Linked DNA regions of Homo sapiens. The protein of the gene in region 3 interacts with the protein of the main gene of each other region in a pairwise test. Each region holds a gene or a part of one and is shown on either strand. Other genes may lie near its edges.

What was found.
Region 1: the proteins of KLF15 (region 3) and RAB11A interact in binary tests that used the Homo sapiens proteins (3 or more experiments, as listed by UniProt).
Region 2: the proteins of KLF15 (region 3) and ZNF330 interact in binary tests that used the Homo sapiens proteins (3 or more experiments, as listed by UniProt).
Region 4: the proteins of KLF15 (region 3) and SNX13 interact in a two-hybrid assay, tested with the Homo sapiens proteins (one large-scale study listed by BioGRID and IntAct).
Region 5: the proteins of KLF15 (region 3) and ANKS1A interact in a two-hybrid assay, tested with the Homo sapiens proteins (one large-scale study listed by BioGRID and IntAct).
Region 6: the proteins of KLF15 (region 3) and PIAS4 interact in binary tests that used the Homo sapiens proteins (3 or more experiments, as listed by UniProt).
Region 7: the proteins of KLF15 (region 3) and APPL1 interact in a two-hybrid assay, tested with the Homo sapiens proteins (one large-scale study listed by BioGRID and IntAct).

Annotation. Positions count from the first base shown.
Region 1 is NC_000015.10:65,886,491-65,889,489, forward strand, and holds part of RAB11A (ras-related protein Rab-11A), read left to right. Parts: intron 1-1,210; coding exon 1,211-1,350; 3' UTR 1,351-2,999. UniProt on the Homo sapiens protein: The small GTPases Rab are key regulators of intracellular membrane trafficking, from the formation of transport vesicles to their fusion with membranes.
Region 2 is NC_000004.12:141,233,046-141,235,197, reverse strand, and holds the end of ZNF330 (zinc finger protein 330), read right to left. Parts: intron 1,484-2,152; coding exon 1,209-1,483; 3' UTR 501-1,208; downstream 1-500.
Region 3 is NC_000003.12:126,344,772-126,347,408, reverse strand, and holds part of KLF15 (Krueppel-like factor 15), read left to right. Parts: intron 1-2,637. UniProt on the Homo sapiens protein: Transcriptional regulator that binds to the GA element of the CLCNKA promoter. Binds to the KCNIP2 promoter and regulates KCNIP2 circadian expression in the heart. Is a repressor of CCN2 expression, involved in the control of cardiac fibrosis.
Region 4 is NC_000007.14:17,790,495-17,793,994, forward strand, and holds the end of SNX13 (sorting nexin-13), read right to left. Parts: 3' UTR 267-3,500; downstream 1-266. UniProt on the Homo sapiens protein: May be involved in several stages of intracellular trafficking. May play a role in endosome homeostasis. Acts as a GAP for Galphas.
Region 5 is NC_000006.12:34,892,255-34,895,754, reverse strand, and holds part of ANKS1A (ankyrin repeat and SAM domain-containing protein 1A), read right to left. Parts: intron 1-3,500. UniProt on the Homo sapiens protein: Regulator of different signaling pathways. Regulates EPHA8 receptor tyrosine kinase signaling to control cell migration and neurite retraction.
Region 6 is NC_000019.10:4,024,736-4,028,235, reverse strand, and holds part of PIAS4 (E3 SUMO-protein ligase PIAS4), read right to left. Parts: intron 91-3,500; coding exon 49-90; exon of another isoform or gene 47-48; coding exon of another isoform or gene 39-46; intron 1-38.
Region 7 is NC_000003.12:57,230,729-57,234,228, forward strand, and holds part of APPL1 (DCC-interacting protein 13-alpha), read left to right. Parts: exon of another isoform or gene 1-36; coding exon of another isoform or gene 37-39; intron 40-3,500. UniProt on the Homo sapiens protein: Multifunctional adapter protein that binds to various membrane receptors, nuclear factors and signaling proteins to regulate many processes, such as cell proliferation, immune response, endosomal trafficking and cell metabolism.

The DNA.
Region 1 (2,999 bases), on a different chromosome or scaffold from region 3:
AGGCTAATTGTGTTAATTTGACACATTTTTAGAATTATCTTGCTTTTTGAGAGTAGTGTTTTTGGAGGGACAACTGGGAGAGTAAACAAAAATAAGGTACATTCTCTGTTCTTAAGGACTTTATAATCTAGTCACAGGGAACAACTTTTAGGCAGTGCAGTATAAGACCAAACGTGTTACATACAGATACTTATTGTGGAGGAATTTAGTGACATTCATGCGGTTATTTATTTATCACAACACATGTTATATGTTGCAGTACAGCAGTAAGACAGACACAGTTTTGATCCTTACAGAGTTTAACACTTAGTAAAAGAGGCAGACACTAAATTATTTTTGATAAGTGTCATGAAATAAAAATAGAGTTTACATATAACATCTTAAGTTGCCTATTTTGTATCATTCTTTAATTACAATTTAAGTTTTGTTCAGGAGGTCACTGATAAACACATTATCTTTTTTTCCCTTCCAAGAATCGTTTGGGATTTTAGCATGTTTGTTAAGATGTACTCTGCCGAATGCGTCTGATAGTGCAAATTTATTTATTTTTTGTGTGGTACAATGTCATTGTGTGTAGGCAATTTTTGTTTGTTTGTTTGTTTTTTGGGGTAAAGGTAGACTGAAAATACTCTTATGGTTTACTTTGAATCTAAGTCCATAAACAATGTAATGCTATTGGCTTACCTCTTTTTTTTTTTTTTGAGACCGAGTCTTGCTCTGTTGTCTAGGCTGGAGTGCAGTGGCACGATCTCATCTCACGACAACCTCCGCCTCCCGGGTTCAAGTGATTCTCCTGCCTCAGCCTCCCGAGTAGCTGGGATTACAGGCACCCACCATCATGCTTGGCTAATTTTTGTATTTTTGTAGAGACAGGGTTTCACCATGTTGGTCAGGCTGGTCTTGAACTCCTGACCTCAGGTGATCTGCCTGGCCTGGTTTACCTCTTTAAACAAAGATTTATTTGACTGGTGAACCTTTCCCTCTGACATGGAAAAACCTTTGTTTCTTTTCTTACCCAAAGGGCAATTGTTAAAATAAAGGGTTGAATCTAATCAGTGGCTGTTTGAAAATAAAACTTTAAATTTATGTATTCTCTGTTCAGTTTCCTTAGGGACTTTGATGCAAATATATCTCCTACCTTTATGTATCTTTTATCCTAACTATGATAGGTTTATTCACACTAAGTATTGTGGTTTCTTTTTTCCTTCAGAGATTTACCGCATTGTTTCTCAGAAGCAAATGTCAGACAGACGCGAAAATGACATGTCTCCAAGCAACAATGTGGTTCCTATTCATGTTCCACCAACCACTGAAAACAAGCCAAAGGTGCAGTGCTGTCAGAACATCTAAGGCATTTCTCTTCTCCCCTAGAAGGCTGTGTATAGTCCATTTCCCAGGTCTGAGATTTAAATATATTTGTAATTCTTGTGTCACTTTTGTGTTTTATTACTTCATACTTATGAATTTTTCCATGTCCTAAGTCTTTTGATTTTAGCTTTATAAAATCATCCACTTGTCCCGAATGACTGCAGCTTTTTTTCATGCTATGGCTTCACTAGCCTTAGTTTAATAAACTGAATGTTTGGATTCCTCAGTTATTGTTTACTTTTCATCATGGAAGCCTGTCACTGTATGTAGGACATAATAGAACTTGATCACTTGAAGCTCAGACCTATTGGTCTTGATCAAATCAAACTAAGAAGACCTTAGAAATAAGCTACCATTTTGCCACAGAGCAGCTTATAGGTAATACACTCTTCTCTCAGTGCAGTGTACATTTCCACAAATCTAAGAATTGCCCTATAAACATAGCAGGATTTTGAGAGCTTGAAAATTTTCCATTATTCTGGACATGAATTTCTAAAATGCCTTAATAGGTTTATGTAGTTGAGTAAATTTTGTTTTTTAATTTTTGTAAGCATCAAAGTTGATTAGAGAGGGGGGCACTTTTTCTGGAGAATTCTCTTAGTAAACACAAAAGATTGTTACGGTTTCATTAGTAGTATGGTTGTGGGGCCATAAGTTAAACAGTGCTGCCTGGTAGGCTGGGAACTGAAGAGACTTGTGGTATTCCATCTCGGGTGCCTCTGTTGGCAATGATCAGGCAGCCCAAAAGATTTAAATGATCTATAATAATTTCCAAGCGGTAGATTATGTGGCATTTTATTGCTCAGGCAATAATTGGTTTAATGCTGGTAGTGTCAAATTTTGAAGTGTTAATTTTGTCTTAGAACCTTCCAGTAAGTGAAATACAACCTAGTTTTATCACCATATCCACCAGCAGGCATGGATAATTATTTTAACAATGCTAATATTTGAGTTTTGCAGTATATTATAGAATATAGTCCAGTTAAATCTTTGGTTTCAGTATGTCTGAAGAGTACAGTGAGAGGTTAATTTCTGCTCAAGTGGTACCACTTAAAGGCATGTATTCTTTTAGTATGTAAAATGAAATAGTACCTTGAGTTTAAATAGAATGCATTTAGGCATTGTAGAGATCTGAAATAGTTTTCTTCCACTACATTGTTGAAATCAATGAAGCAATTAGTTTCTCATTCAGAAATGTGCACACTAATATTTAGTTTTGCTTTCTCGTGGATAATATTAAGCACTTACTCTGCAGTTTCCTGGAAGTTGTGTCAACTGCAGTGATACTATTCAGGATGGTGGGAAATCCCCAAAAATATGTATGTGTGGGCTTGCTTAGATTACTATATTTCATAGTTAATCTTTTGTCTCTTGCGGTGCTCATGATGTGTGGGGCACACGGAAGGCATTGCTGTAGTCAGTCATTTTGGTTTTCTTCTATAGCCATTTTATTATTTTAGTGTATTAGTTATGAAGATAATATTATCTATTTGTAAATTGCTACTTTGTATTTTATGCATGCTCTGTAATTTGATTTTTTTTTAGTTATTGATTTGGATTATATTCACATTCTAATAAACAGTTATAGGGGGATTATTTCTTATGCTGTCAGATTACATTTTTCCTTTGAG
Region 2 (2,152 bases), on a different chromosome or scaffold from region 3:
AAACTATTAAGTCTCGGGCTTGCTCCTCAGTTTTTTCAAGCCGTCCTACTGCAAAAGGTGAAAAGCTTTTTCACATGCCACCAGAGGCCCTCTAACTTTGACACCTGGCTTTCCATTGCCTGTTATTGTCCTTGGCTGTTAAGTATGCTTCTATAGAACAAAAATGGCTTAACAATGGCCATTCAACCCTGTTATCCTCATAGCTACAATTTTCTCCATACATCTAAAATGTGAGGCAATCAGATATTGTCTCTCCTTGTACAACTACCCAATCCCTATTAAATGCCAGTGTTAAGTTGTAACAACTGGGACTTGTGACAGGACTGTCCTCCACCTATCAATGATGGGGTCTGGGCTGCTTATCTTTAAGTGTATACCACACAGTCTCTATTACCTATTTCCATATGTGTGAAAACTGAAGCAGTTTGTAAAAAAATTAGAATGCTTTCCAAAACAAACTGAAAATACAGAACAAAAAATTAAATATAATGTCAAAAGTATTTAAGTGAAATAATAGATTTATTCAAAGAGAAATAAAATGTCCTGGGTAAAGCTTCTGTAATAATACTATTTCTGATACTGTATCTCTGAAAAATGGCTAACTAGTCACCTTATCAATACATTTAAGGCATCAATAATAGGTACCACTGAGGACATACATTGTGAAGAAAGAGAAGAATAAGTCAAATACTAAAACATACTTATCATGACAACTCAAGGTGACATGAATATTTAATGAAAATTTAGAATATAACAACATATGACTCTCATTCTGTGGACATAAAAGGAAAAATACAGTAATTCATTTTACTCATTACATTTTACAAAATCAGCCCAATGAAGCAGTATTTTTTAATAAAAACAGTAATTTAATTTCAAACAAATATATTACCATCCTATTCCTTTATCTTGTATATATGTATCTAATTGGCAAAACATACTTTACTGAAATCAGTAACAATCCAATCCATGATACTTCAATTGCTTCGATCAATAAACATCTTAAATTTGAAACTCATTTTTCTTATGCCATAAGCCTGATTATCAGTTCTATAAAAACGCTACACCCTATTGCTTGGCCCATTAAGTGTAACTAGTCTTCTGCACAAGGCTAAGTGGCTAAGGTACTTTTGAACAACCACACACAATTCATCAAGCACACACACTCACTCCTGCTCCTCTCACACACGGCCACCAGAGCAGCTCCCCTAGTTCTCTTGTTCCTCATAGTGAGCATAGCCACTAGCATAGGTCCTTCCTAAATTCAAATTAGTAAACAAATCTGATGACTCAGTATCTGAATCCTTTCTGCCTTCATCTTCTTCCTCTTCATCATCCTCTGCTTCATACTCATCCTCCTCCTCATCGTGGTAGCTGGTATCACCATACTTATCAGATGAAAGGTTCTTCCAATAAGCATCATACCCAGAAGCTCCATCTCCCTCTTCACCTCCAGTCTGCCTGCCAAATTTCAGGGAGCGTGCTATAGAAGACAGACAAGTACAAGGCATTTTGTTAGTTCCAGTTCTCTACATTCTCATCTTCCTCTATAAAATTTCATGGATTTCATTGGCTGCTTCAATCCCAAATGAAAAAATAGGTCACATTTTCCTAATTTTTTCACCTGAGTCTATATACAACACCATAAAAAATAAAAATTACAGTGTAATTTCATTAAATCTAGAAAACAAATTAGACCAACAGACCACTCCAAAGGTATTAAGGCATGTTTAAAACAAAAATACCTTCCGTTTGGCCACTGACAGTTTATTTTCAAATCACATAAATCACAGAATACAGCTGATTTCGTATCAGTACATTTTTCTTAAGACAGCTATTTTACAATGCAGATGCCCTTAAAAACAAAGCCTGTCATTTCTTCTGCCTTAATAGTGACACAAAGTTCAGTGCAGAAGATCAGCAAAATCATCAGTCTCACCTCACCATGCAACTACATCTGTGATTAAACAAAGCAGTCAGTCACTTAGAATTATGGTTCCATTCTGATATGTTTGGTTAAGAGTCAAACTTCTCTTTAACAAAATTGCGAGCTGCATTACTATAAGCATGCTTATTCCTTCACAAAAAAAGTTACATAAAAACCATAAAATAATTTCCTATAGTAGTGCTATATTACATAAATAAACATAGG
Region 3 (2,637 bases):
AAACTTAGGGGTCTGGCTCCCAGCCTGCTCTCATGACCCCTCTGCATTGAGGCTTTTTCTGACCTCCTTCCCTCTGTAGGCAGAGGCCCCCAGTATGGTTGGGCAGGTTGTGAACTGCACAACTCTAGGGAGCACCATTTCCATTGCAGTTTCTGAGACTGGACTGTTTGCGGTGTTGTCTGGCGGATGAGGGTTAGTGTCTCAAGGAAGGGACGCCTTCATACAGAAGTGCTGTATGCACCAGCCCTGACATTATAGCTGCTCTAGAGAGACACTGGACCCCTGTGTACCCTCTGCCCTACAGCTCAGCACAAATCATAGTGCTGCCCTGTCTGCAGCAGGACCCACCAGGAACCAGGCCCAACACTCAACTCCATGCAGGTGATAAGAGCTCATCATTCTTGAATAATTGCCACGTGCTAAGCAGGGCTCTAAACCGTTACTGGTTGCCTTGTACAATCCTCACAGTCCTCAGGAATAGGTCTTTTGTTCTCCCTTTGTCTGGGTAGAGAAACTGAGGCTCAGGGAGCTTGGTGACTTTCCTAGTTTGCCTGGTTGGTAAGTGGCAGAGCTTACTGCCTACAAGGGCTGCATCTTACCCACCGGGTTCCCACATCCCCCACTGTAGTCCCCAGGGCTCTCTGTTGGCTGCTGTTTGGGAGAATGTGGCATGCAGGGGTGAGGCAGGGGGTCTTCTGAGGGCTCAGTTCCCAGGGAAGTTCCTCTCAGGTGCCAGGACCCTGTGGCAGCAGGGAGGGAATTCAGGTGAGGACAGCATGTTGTCCAGCTTGGTTCTATCTCATCTGCCTGTCCTTCCCAGGGTGTCACCATGACCAGAGATCTGTGTGGCCCCACGTCACCACCTGTGGCCTTTGAGATGAGTCTTGGAAGGTGGGCAGGAATGCCAGAGTCTTCATTGGATGAATGAAGAAATTGAGGCCCAGAAAGGACCATTCAGGGCACCCAGTGGGGTGGGAACTGTCAAGGCAGGAGCCTGAGACTCTGTCCCCTGGGCTGTGTGACTTGGCCTCTTTAAACCCTTGCCATGGTCTTGCCAGTCCAATGGGGCTGGCTCATCCTGGTTCCCTGGCCAGTGAGATGCTGGGTGACCCCAGGGCTGCAGCCTGGGAGGCGTGGCACTCTGTGTCTGCAGCTTTCTGCTTACCCCTGCCCTGGGCCAGCTCCTCTGCTCAGAAGCTGTGTGCCCAGCTGCAGCTGGGGGCAGGTGTCCTGCCCAGGAGCACAGGTGTCAGCTTTGACTGCCAGGGCACATTTATCCCATTTCCTCACTGGCACAGGGCCCTGTGACACACACACCCATCCAGGCCTGTACAGGAGGCTGGGGGGCTCTGCTGACTGGGAGTCCAGGTCATCTGCCATTGCCAGGGCAGGGGGCTGTGTCAAGACCTCTGCTCCAGCCTCAGGGGCCCTGTCTTGTCAGTGACCTGGACCAGGCCCTCAGCACCCTGAGCTTCAGTTTCCTCCTCTGACAGGCAGGGCAGTTGGGCTTCACCTAGTCTGGAGATGTGCTGAAAGCACTGCCCTGTGCCTGGTGCCACCACCACTCTGTGATGTGAGTCGGAGTTCCTGTCTCCTCCTGCAGGCCCTCCTGCCACCCCCTGTGCCTTGTCCAGAGCATGTTCTGCTGGGTCCTTCTGCTCTTCCACCCACAGGGTCAGGGCGCCAGGGCATCACCAGCCCTTACCAATTGCTGGGTGGGAACTGCTGCTCTGGGCACCGCCTCTCGCTGGGTGGCCCTGGTCCACAAAGGGGTGTTGGGCCTCGTGTCCCTGTGTGTGTGTGTGTGCGTGAGTACATGGGGGCATGAATTTGTGCCTGTGTGTGTGTGTGTGTGAGTATGTGTGGGCACATATTCGTCCGTGTATGTTTGTGTGCCTGTATGTGTGGGCATGTATTTGTCCGTGTGTGTGTGCGTGCATGCTTTGGGACTGCTCCTTGACAGTGTCTGCCCCCCTAGGGCTGCTTGCTGTGCCCACTCTTGCATTGAAATCCACCTCCTCAGCACCTACCATATACCAGGCATTGGGCTGGTCATGGGAAGACCACCGGGAACCAAGACAAACATGTCCTTTGTCATGGAGCTGACAGTCTAGTGGGACAGACTGACAGTCATCAAAAAGTTGAAGATAATTTAAAATCAAAACAACAGCAAGAATGAGGAGAGAGAGGTGTGTAATGCCACAGGAGCCTAGAATTGGATGCAGTCCTGGAGGGATTTCCTAAGGAAGTGACATTCGAGCTGAGCTCTAAGGAATGGGTAGGAGAGAGCAAGGAGGGGGAGGGAAGAACATTCTAGAAAGAGGGAACAGTATGTGCAAATGGCCTGTGGCAAGAAGGACCAAGGAAAGGTCAATGCAGGTGGAGCACAGAGCGGGATAGTGTGTCGTGGGAGGGGTAGGTGGGGTGGGAGGGACCTGCTGCCAAGCCAGGGGTGGAGAGGGCCTCAAATCCCTGAGGTTGGTGGCAAGCAGTCCAGGCCCTCGATGCAGCTTGGGCTCTTGACTGTCACATGAGTGCCTGCTCCCAGGCCAGCAGGGCCAAGAAAGCGAAATGTCGGGAGCCACCTGAACTCCCAGATACACTTTGCAGGGTCAATCTTTATTTGGGCCTGCCTTA
Region 4 (3,500 bases), on a different chromosome or scaffold from region 3:
TGGGAAAATACTTTATAATTTGATACGATGAGGAAGTATAAAGTTTCTTTAACACTGTGGTGTAAATTATTTGCCCCATAAAAGAAAAAGTTAAATTCAGTCCATTTAAGTCAGTAATCACTCAAGCACTCATCTATCAACCTGGAACTTGAATTGGTTGATATCTAAAAGAAAAGAAAATACAAACAGATACTAAAAATAAGACTACTGAGCAAGCATCTTAAAAGTAACAAAAATACATTACTATTAAATGAACTCAACAAAAATGTTTGTTAATACTTTATTAGTATTTTCTAATGGACAGAACACAAACCAAATAAATTTTTTAATCCTTTTAGTTGAATAAAAATAACTGACATTCTGATTGTTGTTTCTTCTTTGTTAAAGAAAGAAAGTATTGATAGAACAGTTAGGCACACAGTTGACACTTACTGTACAATGATATGCACACATTATCTTTTAACAATTATAATCCTAAAATGTGCTCTTCATATTTTTTCCCTTGTAATACAGGAGCCATGCTCCTAAAAGCAAAATTTACTACTAATAAAAGAATTTTCCAAGGAGTGACAAAAAGACTTTTAAAACAAGTCCTTAAATAAAAGGATGCAGCAACAACGGAATGTAAGTTGTTGGATTAAGAAGACAGTTTAAGCTACATCTCAAAAAATTAAAAATTCATTTATCTTACAATTACTCAAATACACATGCATTAAATGAAAATATTGCACAAAATTAAAATTTTAGATTGTGAAATTTATATCATTCTTAATTTTTATAAAAATTGGTACACTTTCTGGTAGCACTTAACTGATTGATTTTTCTTCCCAAATACCAGCAGCACAAACTTAAAATGAACAAACTGAAATATTCAAGAAAGTTTTTGTTTTTTTTTTTTTTAAAAAAATTAAGGCTAACCAAGTGCATCCATTGGTCAATGGCACAATTGATTTCAGCAACTATTTGGAATATCCTAATTATAGGAAATGCCCATCTAAGTGATATATTTAAATAATACAATCAATTTTTTAAGGTGAATAAACTATGATGGTTTCTAAATAGTGTACATGTTACCTGAAAAATCAGAAAACACAAAGAATGATTAATTTCGAAAGTTCTTGCCTAAAGGCACCACTGACTTAAAAAACATTCAAAATCAAATACCAGAAGACATAAAGCCTCTTCATGTATATATTCATATATGCAATAAATGCATTAAATGTAACTTTATTAAACATAGTACACTGTACTTGACTTATGGTTAAATATTTTACACACAGCTTGACCAAGTCATTCAAAAAGTTATCTCTAATTTTAGCATGACCACAGCTCTTTCTGATGTAAAAGACAGATGTGCATAGAGAAGGTGCACCACCATTTACAAAGACTATCATTTGACATTTTCTGCTTCTGAAATATAAACTCTTCTAAACAAAAATTACTTTAAAAATCCATTTACTCAAATAGTTTTTGGTATGATTGCAGTTATCTTGCAGGGCTCTATTTTGAAAATTTGCAATATTACATGACCTTTATTTCCCTAATTGATGGCCAGTGCTCCTCACATTATATAGAAATGCTTTTTCACATGTACACGTTAGGGTCTTACATGAATTATTCTGTATACTGTTAGATTTATTCATGTCAAAAATATATTTGAAATGGGCAGAGGCATATATGAAAATCACTGCACTTATGGCCATGCTGATGCTTCCTACAGACATGTTTCATGTTTCAAACATTTTCACTTTTAAAGCCTGGGGCTCAGGGAGGGGCCAAGGCAGGGAGACACCCTGAGAAGAAGAAATACTATTTCTTCCACCAGAGCCACTAAGGATCTTTTCTCACTTGCAAGTTGCAATGAAAGGGATTTCATTTTATGTAATTCTGAAGACATGCAACATATGCTGAATATATGCATACTATAAGTATGCACAACAGCATTATTAATAAATATGATTATTATAAAGCTTTAAAGGAAGGCTTTATTCTGTTAATAACCCTCACTTTGTAAGTAGGATCTAAGTGAAAACAAGACAGTGATATCTTGTTCCAATCTTAAAGCTCCCAAATAACTGGGATACCAATACTCTGTCCCTTTATCTTAAGCACCCAGACTTTCTTTTAATACCAGGATCTTGGCTCAGTGGTCTGATAAGTAGCTTCATTATTTTAAGGTTTTAGTGTTAAATATTTTTAAAACAAAAAAAGCTGACACACCCAAACCCTTAGGCAATGAAAGTATTTAAAACTATGCAGAAATCCTGCATAGAAGGGATGTGAATACTTCTAAGATGGATAAAATGGACAGTCAGAAAACTATAGGAAATACAGAAGCTCCAAAACTAGAGAAAGTATTTTATTTTATTGATATAAAATTAATTTATGGGTTTAAAGGTATACACTGAGGGGTCTTGCCTACTAGCTTTATTTTGTAGAACTTTACATTATGTGAAATATAAATAAAAGCATATTTTTAAAAATATTATAGTTCTTTTTTCATCATTTATTTTCATATATGTACACTGTCATAGAATTAGGAATCTGTATGTTTACTATGACTAATAAGCTCATTAATCATTTAATTTGCTATTTCTGCAGTTACCTAAGGCATGTCTAGATCACACAATTAAAAATTATCATATGGTAACTTTCCAGACTACTATTTAAATTTCCATATTTTTAGAAGGACAAAATGTATTTGGCAGTTCTTCCAATAAATTATATCTTCTGTATAATCAGTAATCTGTTAAAGATAAAACTAATAATTTTGAAATTTAAATGAGAGCCACCACATGCTTCTTTTTGCACAAAGAATGCCAAAAGGAAACATAAAATTGAGTACCCTAAGAGCAAAACACAGCCCTTAAAGCACACATAAGAATAAAAATTGTTGTATACCAATGAATAACAAATCCAATCAAATTCTGTGTTTGATTGGTTTTATTTTATACTCAGCTTTATTTTATATCACAAAACTGTAATTCAGGTATAAGGTTATTTCACACTTTAAGGGCATTCTGTCTCTTTCTCCAGACCTGAAAGAGATGTTTCAAGGATCATTCACCTGGCTAATCCACAATATATCAAAATGCTGACAGACCTACAAAATCATTATGCCAAACAAACTCCTCCAAGTCGTACATTGCACAGTCTCCAACTGTTAAACAAATTAGCCAATTTATCTCTGAACCATTGTTTTGTGCTTTCCTTAGCTTTCATATATACACTCTGGCACTTTGTCATTGCTGGAGAATGCTGATTAGTTTGAAATGGAAGAAACCAACGCCATTCTTGCTTGAGATGGGGGCAGTTTTCTCTCAATGTTGCAAAATATGCACCAAATCATTTAAGACACAGAAATCTCTCTTGGTAGTGGTGGATTATAGATGAGAATGAGAAGAACCACAGACTTATGGATGTATTAATAATCTATTTTGAGACACTAAAAGACTGGTGCAGACACAACAGTATTTGAGTTAAGCCCCAGAAGATCTGTC
Region 5 (3,500 bases), on a different chromosome or scaffold from region 3:
TAATTAATTAAGATAGTTTAGTGGAAGACCCAGAAAACTGCTATGCTAGTGGATAGTTGCATTTTATCTTGTTTTTGCATTCTCTTAGAAGAGCAGGAACTTAGATCAGACAAATTCAAATCCACAAGATCTGTTTCCAGGCCCTTCCATTCTACAATCCTTACATGGTCAGTGTTGCCCTCTTCCTTAAGATGTTAAAATCATTTTGCTCAAAATAGGCACTTTCAAAAGAAATCTGGCACAGTAGTGGGCAAAAGTAAAAAGGTCAGCATGAGAAAAGGCTGTCACGCCATTATAATCTCCAAGGTTCAGATCCATTCTGGGAATGAATAAAGGACCATTTCAATAGAATGGTTATGCTAATCACTGTTTAAAAAATAATAACACTAACAAGAGGAAGAAGTCTAGCCTGGCATGGTGGCATGTGCCTGCAGTCCCAATAGCTCAGGAGGATGAGGCAGGAGGATCAATTGAGCCCAGGAGTTTAAGGTCAGCCTGGACAACATTAGCAAGACTCCTGTCTCTTAAATTTTTTTTTTTAATTAAAAAAAAAAAAAAACCAAAGTCCTTAAATAAATATTAGGAAGCTTTCTTTACAACAATGAATTACTTGCCATATTTTCTGACATTTGGGAGAATCTGTTATTATCCTCCAAATGAGGTCCATTTTTCAAAATTTTTCATGCTTCATTCCTTATTTCAGAACATTTTCACATCTTGGGAAATTCATATCTGTTTTGGAATAGTTTTCTTTTTCTTTTATTCCCCCAATGAAATGGCAGCATAAAAATTAGTTTAAAGCCACATTCATTGCTACTATCTATAAATTTTCAGATTCTCCAGCAAGTCTCCTTGGCTTCCTCTTTTCTTATTCACCCTTCTCATGCTTGAGAAATTAAGCATAAAATATTCCTAAACCATAACATAATCTCCTCAACTGTGATCTTCGGTTTAGTTTCTCTGTGCTTCTGAACCCTAAGAAGTACATTTCACTTTACTTTTCCATTCATATACATCAGTATTTAGTTCATAACTCAATTTACAGTTTGAAGCTATTGTGGCTGGTTTTCTTTTTTCTTCTTTTTTTGGGGGGTGGTGGTGTGAGGACGTGGTCTAGCTCTGTCACCCAGGCTGAAATGCAGTGGAACAATCTTGGCTCACTGCAGCCTCAACCTCCCAGACTCAAGCAATCCTCCCACATCAGCCTCCCGAGTAGCTGGGACTACAGGTGCACACCATCACGCCTGGCTAATGTTTGTATTTTTCGTAGAGATGGGATTTCAGCATGTTGCCCAGGCTGGTTTCAAACTCCTGGGCTCAAGTGATCCAGCTGCCTCAGCCTCCCAAAGTGTTGGTATTACAGAGGTGAGCCACTGTGCCTGGCCATGATTGGTTTTAACATTTCCTTTTCTCAGATCTTTTTGGCCTTTTAGTTGATAGAATTTACTTTTAACCAAATCTTACAATATTCTTATACAGGAGTTTCTTTCTTGGAAATCAGTATTTCACTATAACTCTAAACATAGCAAACTGTCTTGTTACATGAGAATCTGAGTGCCCGCTACGTGCCCAGAACTAAAAAATACTGTAAGTTAAGAAGTTTGATAGAATGCCTATCCCAAGCTCCCAAGGTATAGACCGAAGGCATGCATCCATTAAACAATCAGAAAATGAGTTAGTATTATATAAAGTATAATCCATGCAATCCAGAGCCTCTGTAAGCCTAGACATTCTGGATAACTGTGCTTTCTAGATAATCTATTGCTTATCCTTTTAAGTAAAAAAATTATATTTAAACCATTTTGGATAGAAAACTATATTTTTTTTCTTCTTTCACTAACAAGCTATATTGAACATAATTTAATCTTTATTTGATGGCTAACAGTCATAATAAACATAAATCATAGCACAAAGATACAGTAAACTGATGCTTGGGGCTTACATAGGTATATAGGGCTATATACACCTATGTTAATAGCTTCAAACAGCCGGGAGGTAGGATAAATTATGCTAAATTTGTGTGCTTTCTCTGTCTCCTTTTTGTTGGCCTGTTACACAGACGTATCATACTACTATAAACTCTGTAAGGGAACAGAACATGTATGAAGAGAGGGGCTAATTCTGACAGACCACGTACAATGTCCCAGGTCTCAGACATATTTTGCAGTGCATCTAGCAATCACTTGGCCTGGCACAAAGTATATCATGGGTAAACATTGGGTATATGAATGATTCCTCTCCCTTATTTACTCTTTCTAGTCTGCCATGCTTGGAAAACAGATCCCCAAGCATGAAAAAACACCATTTAAAATGTGTCAGGCAGGGCACTGTGGCTCACACCTATAATCCCAGCACTTTGGGAGGCTGAGGCAGGAAGATCGTTTGAGCCCAGGAGTTTGAGACTAGCCTGGGCAACATAGTGGGACACGATCTCTACAAAAATAAAAATAAATAATGTGTCTGGCATGGTACTTTGCACAGAACAGGTGCAACACAGCAAAACCGTATGTGCTGAACTGAGGATGACTAAGACTGAGGACTTAGAATATGCCAGGAATTATGGTAAGTCCCGTACACACATTATCTAAGATGATACCTATAAGGCAGATAGTATTATCCCCATTTTACAGATGCAGAAATTGAGTATCAAAGTGGTTAACTTGAATAATGTCAAGCAGCTAGTCAGTGGTGGCAGTGGAATGTGAATCCAGGAAGTCTGACACAAAAACAAGTGGTCTTAATGCTATAACATGCTTAATGCTAAGAAAAAGTGGACAGTATAATGCTATACTGTTCCTGAATAAATATCCAGTAAATAAGGAAGGCTAGAAGAACACAAAGTTTGTAACAACATGTTTTTCTAGTAGAAGTCTTCTTTGCTGACTTTCTGATTCTCAGGTATAGCATCAATCGGTGAGGGTTGCTATATGTAAACATTATACTGACAGGCCAAAGCGATCAACTGTGAAAGCTAGGCAAGCAAAGTACACTACAGATGACGTGCTCCAAAGACATGGAAGCTTGAGAGATCTGTGTGTATTAGGGTCATCAGGAAGGGCTTTAAGAAGTTAAAACCTAAGCCCAAGCTGTGTAGAGGAAAAGGGATGGGTAAGAGAAGAGGGCATTTTTTAGCTTAAGAATAAACACAAAGCCTTTGTGGAATACGGGATGGGGGAACACAAACAGGTGAATACACAAACACATGTGTGGTCTGGAACAATTATTCCACTGCAACTGTAAGCTCCTATTTCTGCCAGCTTTACTTCAGGCAAGTTACAGTTGGCAGTACAAATAGGGGTAGAATATGGCCGCTAATACAAAGGCCAAATCTGAAGCTATGATTCCACAGCTCTCATTAAATAATCCAGGGTCTTTAGGGGAGAGAGGGTTGGGAGCAGAGGTAACCTACCCTTCACTATGTCCACATCTAAAAAGGGAGGACATACTGACCTAGGCATGGTCTCATTTGCTCAGAAATCTTTTACTAGCTTTAACCAGAG
Region 6 (3,500 bases), on a different chromosome or scaffold from region 3:
GGGTGGCTGGGGGTCCAGCCCTGGGGTCGCGGGCACACCTGGGCATACCTCAGGACGACCTGCACGGCTTTAACTCCGGGCTGCAGTTCCCTGTGGGTGTGGAGCAAACCAGAGGAAAGGAAAGGAGAGCTGAGTGAGGAGGGCGTGACCCCAGCCCACCCGACAAGGTGGAGACCGCCACACCACAAGGCTCCCTCCCCCAGAGCTGGGAAACTGAGGCCCAGGACTCTTTTGTACGGGCTGGGTGAGAGGAGTGGCTGTGAGGTCAGGAGAGGGGCTGGCCTCCCTGGAAAATGCAACAGAATCCACAGCAAAACCCTGAACCAGAGAGGGCAGCCAGGTGCCTCTCCCTGCGAAGAAACATAGCTAAAACGTGCATGCGGGAATCTAGCAGCTGGCTCACAATGGCAAGAAAACACCCAGTTTGGGAGGTCAAGGCTGGCGGAGCTCTTGAGCCCAGGAATTTGAGACGAGCCTGCGCAACATGGTGAAACTGTCTCCACAAAAAATTACCCAGGCGTGGTGGTGCACACCTGTGGTCCCAGCTGCTTGGAGGCTGAGGCAGGGGGATCGTCTGAACCCATGGAGGCACAGGCTGCAAGCTATGATTGCACCACTGCACTCCAGCCTGGGTAACAAAGAGAAACACTCTCCAAAAAAAAAAAAACAAAAACCAGTAACACCTGAGGATAAACTTTAACAAGAAACGCCCCCAGAAGAAGAGGAAAAAGTCTATCTACCCAAAGACGCATCCGTGGATGTTCACAGCAGAACTGACCACAACAGCCACAAACTAGCAGCATCCTGAGTGTCCTTCCGTAGACCGAAGGACCAACACGCACGGGACGCGACCCAGCCATGGAAAGGAGCCAGGCTCAGACCCAGGCCTCAGCACAGGTGCACCGTGAGGATGTCCCACCCAGTGAGAGACGCCAGACACGAAAGGACACACAAGGCAGGTGGCTCACGCCAGTAACCCTGGCACTTTGGGAGGCGGAGGTGGGTGGGTCACTTGAGGTCAGGAGTTCGAGACAAGCCTGGGCAATATGGTGAAACCTCGTCTCTACTAAAAATACAAAAATTAGGCCAGGTGCAGTGGCTCACGCCTGTAATCCCAGCACTTTGGGAGGCCGAGGCGGGCGGATAACAAGGTCAGGAGATCGAGACCCTCCTGGCTATCATGGTGAAACCCCGTCTCTACTAAAAATACAAAAAAAAAAATCAGCCAGGCGTGGTGGCGGGTGCCTGTAGTCCCAGCTACTTGGGAGGCTGAGGCAGGAGAATGGCGTGAACCCAGGAGGCAGAGCTTGCAGTGAGCCAAGATCGTGCCACTGCACTCCAGCCTGGGCCTCGGAGTGTGACTCTGTCTCAAAAAAAATACAAATATTAGCTGAGTGTGGTGGTGCACGCCTGTAATCCTAGCTAGTCAGAAGTCTGGGGCAAGAGAATCACTTGAACCTGGGAGGCGGAGATTGCAGTGAACTGAGATCGCGACACTGCACTCCAGCCTGGGCGACAGAGTGAGATTCTGTCTTAAATAATAATAATAAACGAAAGCCACATAGTATGTGATTCCACTTCTATGAAATGTCCAGGACAGACCCATTTACAGACAGGAGGGGATGCGTGGGGGCCAGTGGATGAAGGGTGGCAGCTGCTGGGGATGGACATGACTGCCCTGAGACTAGGCAGTGGTGGGAGCTGCGATACCTACTGATCCACGAGAACCCACTCGATGACACCCTTAAAAACTGTATATTCTATGGTATGCAAATCATATCTCGACATAAGAAAAAGAAATGTGGGATGGGCAGGGTGGCTCACGCCTGTAATCCCAGCACTTTGGGAGGCAGATGTGGGGTGGATCACGAGGTCAAGAGATTGAGATCATCTTGGCCAACATGGTGAAACCCTGTCTCTACTAAAAATACAAAAATTAGCCAGGCGTGGTGGTGCGCACCTGTAGTCCCAGCTACTCGGGAGGCTGAGTCAGGAGAATCGCTTGAACCTGGGAGGCAGAAGTTGCAGTGAGCCGACATCACGCCACTGCACTCCAGCCTGGCGACAGAGCGACTTCATTTCAAAAAAAAAAAAGAAAAAGAAAAAGAAATGTCCAGAAGCTTTCTGAGGAGAAAACCAAACTTTTTTTTTTTTTTTTTTTTGAGACGGAGTCTCCCTTTGTTGCCCAGGCTGGAGTGCAGTGGCAGGATCTCGGCTCACTGCAAGCTCCGCCTCCCGGGTTCACGCCATTCTCCTGCCTCAGCCTCCCGAGTAGCTGGGACTACAGGCGCCCGTCACCACACCCGGCTAATTTTTTTGTATGTTTGGTAGAGACGGGGTTTCACTGTGTTAGCCAAGATGGTCTCGATCTTCTGACCTCGTGATCCACCTGCCTTGGCCTCCCAAAGGGCTGCGATTACAGTTGTGAGCCACCGTGCCCAGCCCAAACTGATTTTTTTATACTGTGTGGCTGGCTCTGAGCACTCTGCAGCAGGGACCCAGTGCAGGTGGAGGCTGTGCTGACCCAGGTACATAGACAAGGAAGACGAGGCTGAGAAAGACGAGGTCGCCACCTTGGGTCACCCAGGCAGAGAGGCCTCCATGGCCAAGCCTGGCTCGGCTGGATCTGAACCCTTACTAGGTGTGAGGGCCAGGCTGGGAGGCCCCAGGAACCTGGCCCCACAGCAGGTGGGGGCGGTGGGTCTGAAGCGGCTGGGCACGAGAAGCTAGGCATTAAATGGGGGCGCCCGGCCCAGCCCTGCCATGGACTCAGGGGTGACCTGGGCAAATGGCCTCCCCTGTCCTAAGGGCCCAGCACCTACCATTAGCCTGCCCAGCAGGAATCTGTCTCAGCTGGAGGCAGTACAGCCTCGGAGAGACTGAGGGAGGAGCAGAGCGCAGGGCAGCCACACTGGCCCCTCACCTGCCACAGTTCAACCGTCCTCATCTGAGGACGACCCTGCCCCAGGCGACACCGAGCTGTGTCTGGGGACATCTGTGGTTGTCAGAGTTAGGGGTGTTCCTGGCACAGAGCAGGTGGAGGCCAGGGATGCTGCTCAGCAGCCTGCAGTGCCCAGGACGGCCCCACCGAGGGAACCATCCCACCTCACTATCCACGGTATGGAGGGGGAAACCCCGTATTCATTATATAACTGGGAAAAAACCTGACTTCCGCCAGGCGCAGTGGCTCACGCCTGTAATCCCAGCATTCTGGGAGGCTGAGGTGGGTGAATCACCTGAGTCAGGAATTCGAGACCAGCCTGATCAACATGGCAAAACCCTATCTCTACTAAAAATACAAGATTAGCCGGGCGTGGTAGTGAGCGCCTGTAATCCCAGCTACTTGGGAGGCTGAGGCAGGAGAATTGCTTGAATCCAGCAGGTGGAGGTTGCAGGAAGCCAAAATCGCGCCACTGCACTCCAGCCTGGAAGCCTGGATAACAAGAGCTACACTCAGTCTCAAAAAAAAAAAACAAAAAAACACCTGACTTAACTTCCTG
Region 7 (3,500 bases), about 69 Mb from region 3:
GCAGAGCAGCAAAGAATATGAAGACTTTTAAAGCTCATGGTAAGTTTTTTGTTTTTTTTTTGAGACAGAGTCTCACTGTCACGTAGGTTGGATTGCAGTGGCACAGCCATAGCTCTGAAACCTCAAACTCCTGGGCACACGCCACCAAGCTCAGCTAATTTTATTTTATTTTATTTTTATTTTTTGGAGATGGAGTTTCGCTCTTGTCGCCTAGGCTAGAGTGCAGTGGCATGATCTTGGCTCACTGCAACCTCCACCTCCCGGGTTCAAGTGATTCTGCTTCCTCAGCCTCCCAAGTAGCCCAACTAATCTAAAAATTTTTTGTAGAAGACTGGGCGTGGTGGCTCATGCCTGTAATCTCAGCACTTTGGGAGGACGAGGCAGGTGAATCACGAGGTCAGGAGTTTGAGACCGACCTGGCCAACATAGTGAAACCCCGTCTCTCCTAAAAATACAAAAAATTAGCCGGGCGTGGTGGTGGACGTCTGTAATCCCAGCTACTCGGGAAGCTGAGGCAGGAGAATCACTTGAACCCGGGAGGCGGGGGTTGCAGTGAGCCGAAATTGTACCGTTGCACTCCAGCCCGGGCAACCGTGCGAGACTCCGTCTCAAAAAAAAAAAAAAAAAAAAAGAAAATTTTTTTTTTGTAAAGACAGGTTTTCACTATGTTGGCCAGGCTAGTCTTGAACTCCTGGCCTTAGTGCTGGGATTACAGATGTGAGCCACTGTACCAGGCCCTAAAAGTTTTTTGTTTGATTAGTTTTTAATTTTTTTTAGATCATTTAGATCTAATCAAAAGTGGCCTGCCAGTTGCTACCTAAAAAAGAGCCTTGGCCTGGCACAGTGGCTCATGCTTGTAAACACTTGAGGGTGGGGGTTCAAGACCACCCTGGGCCAAATAGCAAGACCTCATCTCTACAAAAAATAAAATTAGCTGGGCGTGGTGGCATGCACCTGTAGTCCCAGCTATTCAGGAGGCTAGGGCAGGAGGATCGATTGAGTCCAGGAGTCTGTGGCTGCAGTGAGCTATGATCACACCACTGCACTCCAGCCTGGGTAACAGAACGAGGCTTTGGCTCTTAAAAAAAAAAAAAAAAAGAGCCTGGGAGTGATGGAAGACTATCCTGAATTACAGTTACCCTTCTTTTAGTTTTGATTTATAGTAACTACGTATTAAATTAGGGAGAATTTGCAAGTCCAAAATCCAGCTGATCAAACAAGCATCTTTTAAGAATACTGCCTGGAACCTAGGTGGGGAAAAAGCATGTTTGGAATTACCTTGCCCAAACCAGACAGTTCTGCAAAAGATCATCCATTGAGCCAGAAAATCTTAAGCTTATAGTAGATGCCTTGTCCATATTTATATGTTGTTTTGAAAATCAAAATCAAAATAAACCTTGTTAATTACTAAGAACAGATAATGATCTTTAGAAAATTAATTGATTTTATATGTAGATATGTATCTTAGTGATTCATCTATGATAGAACAGTGAAGACAAACCCCAGTCCCAAATGGGATCTTCTGTTTTTGCATAATATGAATTAATCATGAGATGTGCCTTTCCTCCCAACATTTTGATGTCTCTGATTGGGATTCCTCTTAGAGTTGATGGTATATTAACAATTGCTATCAGCCAGGTAGCAGTAGTAATGTATTTCACATTGCCTGCAAATGTACATACTTGGTTGTTTCTCCTAGTAGCATACTGGCCAAGTGTAGTCTCTCAGTGTTCAACTAACAGATCAATTTTGCCACCATTTGAGAAAGGAATATCAGTCCTGGTTGTTGTCCGAAAACCTTCTTTTGACACCTGGTGAGATGTCAAATGACATCATCAAAATTTGCTGAATGAGTATCAGTTTCTTGGAAGAAAATATTAGGGACAAAAATGGAGTACTTCTAAGAAATACTTACCTCCTCATGGCACAGAGAATGATAATGTATAGGAAAACATGCATATTGATGACTCTCGAGTTGAAAAGTGGTTCATGGGCCCGGTGCGGTGGCTCACGCCTGTAATCCCAGCACTTTGGGAGGCCGAGGCGGGCAGATCACAAGGTCAGGAGATCGAGACCATCCTGGCTAACACGATGAAACCCCGTCTCTACTAAAAATACAAAAAATTAGCTGGGTGTGGTGGCTGGCACCTGTAGTCCCAGCTACACGGGAGGCTGAGGCAGGAGAATGGCATGAATCCGGGAGGCGGAGCGTGCAGTGAGCCAGGATCACACCACTGCACTCCAGCCTGGGCGACACAGTGAGACTCTGACTCAAAAAAAACCAAAAAACAAAAAAACAAAAAAGAAAAGTGGTTCATAAGATTCGAACTCTGTGAAGTTTTAGAAATAAATTTATGATGCTTATATTTGTTATGTTTACATGAGAGCTGTATATGATAAAATTCTGTGTGAAGGTCTGTTTTCATAAATATAAGGTAAAAAATTCAAGACATAAGAAAACCTTAAATCATAGCTTAATTGCCAGCATTGTTTTGTTTGAGTAGTACAAAAATGAAAATGATGCATCTTACAATGGATACCATCGTAGATTTGATGAAATGGTACCATATTGATTCTATTTTTTAAGCTACTAACTTTAAACAAACAGCAATTATCCAGTGTTGAAGTTGATATTGTTAGCTTAAAATAGGGAATCTGTTTCAACTTGCTTTGCGCTAAGAAGAGCTTTTAAATTTAATTATGCTACAAGTTTTTACATAAATATGTAACTCCTTGAATTGGAATTACCCATTTTTAGAAAAAAAAAAAACAAAACAGAAACGAAGCGGCAGATTTTTTTTAAGAATGGCACTAGCCAAACAAGATTTCCTGATGCTTTCTTTTTTACATCTTAAAATAGCACTATATGGAATTGTAGTGGAGTGTTTGAAAAATATTCTGTCAAATCTAAATCTCTGAGGCCTGGGGAAGTGGAGGACTGAAAATAGGGACTTACTGGCATCATGATTTTGTGTCCTTTCCCCTTCTTTATACTATATTGACTTAGCTTCCTCCTCTGAAAATAGGAAGCTAAGGAATAAGTTGATTTAAGAAAAAAAAATTTTTGGCCATGTGTGGTGGCTCACACCTGACCTGTAATCCCAGCACTTTGGGAGGCTGAGGTAGGAGAATTGCTTGAGCCCAGGTGTTTGAAACCAGCCTGAGCAGCATAGTGAGACCCTGTCACTACAAAAAATAGAAAAAAAGTAGCCAGACATGGTGGCACATGCCTGTAGTCCCAGCTACCTGGGAGGCTGAGGTGGGAGGATTTTTTGAGCTCAGGAGGTCAAGGCTGCAGTGAGCCGAGATCATGTTACTGCTCCAGCCTGGGAGAAGAATGAGACCCTATCTCAAACAACAACAGCGACACCCACAACAGTTTCTAAGGCTGAGGCATAAATTATTTTTAGAATAAAAATATATCTTTTAGATTTTAAGCTGCAGTTATCTCCAGTAGTTATTGGTATTTTCATTCTTCCCCTGGGCCTTTGGGATGTAAT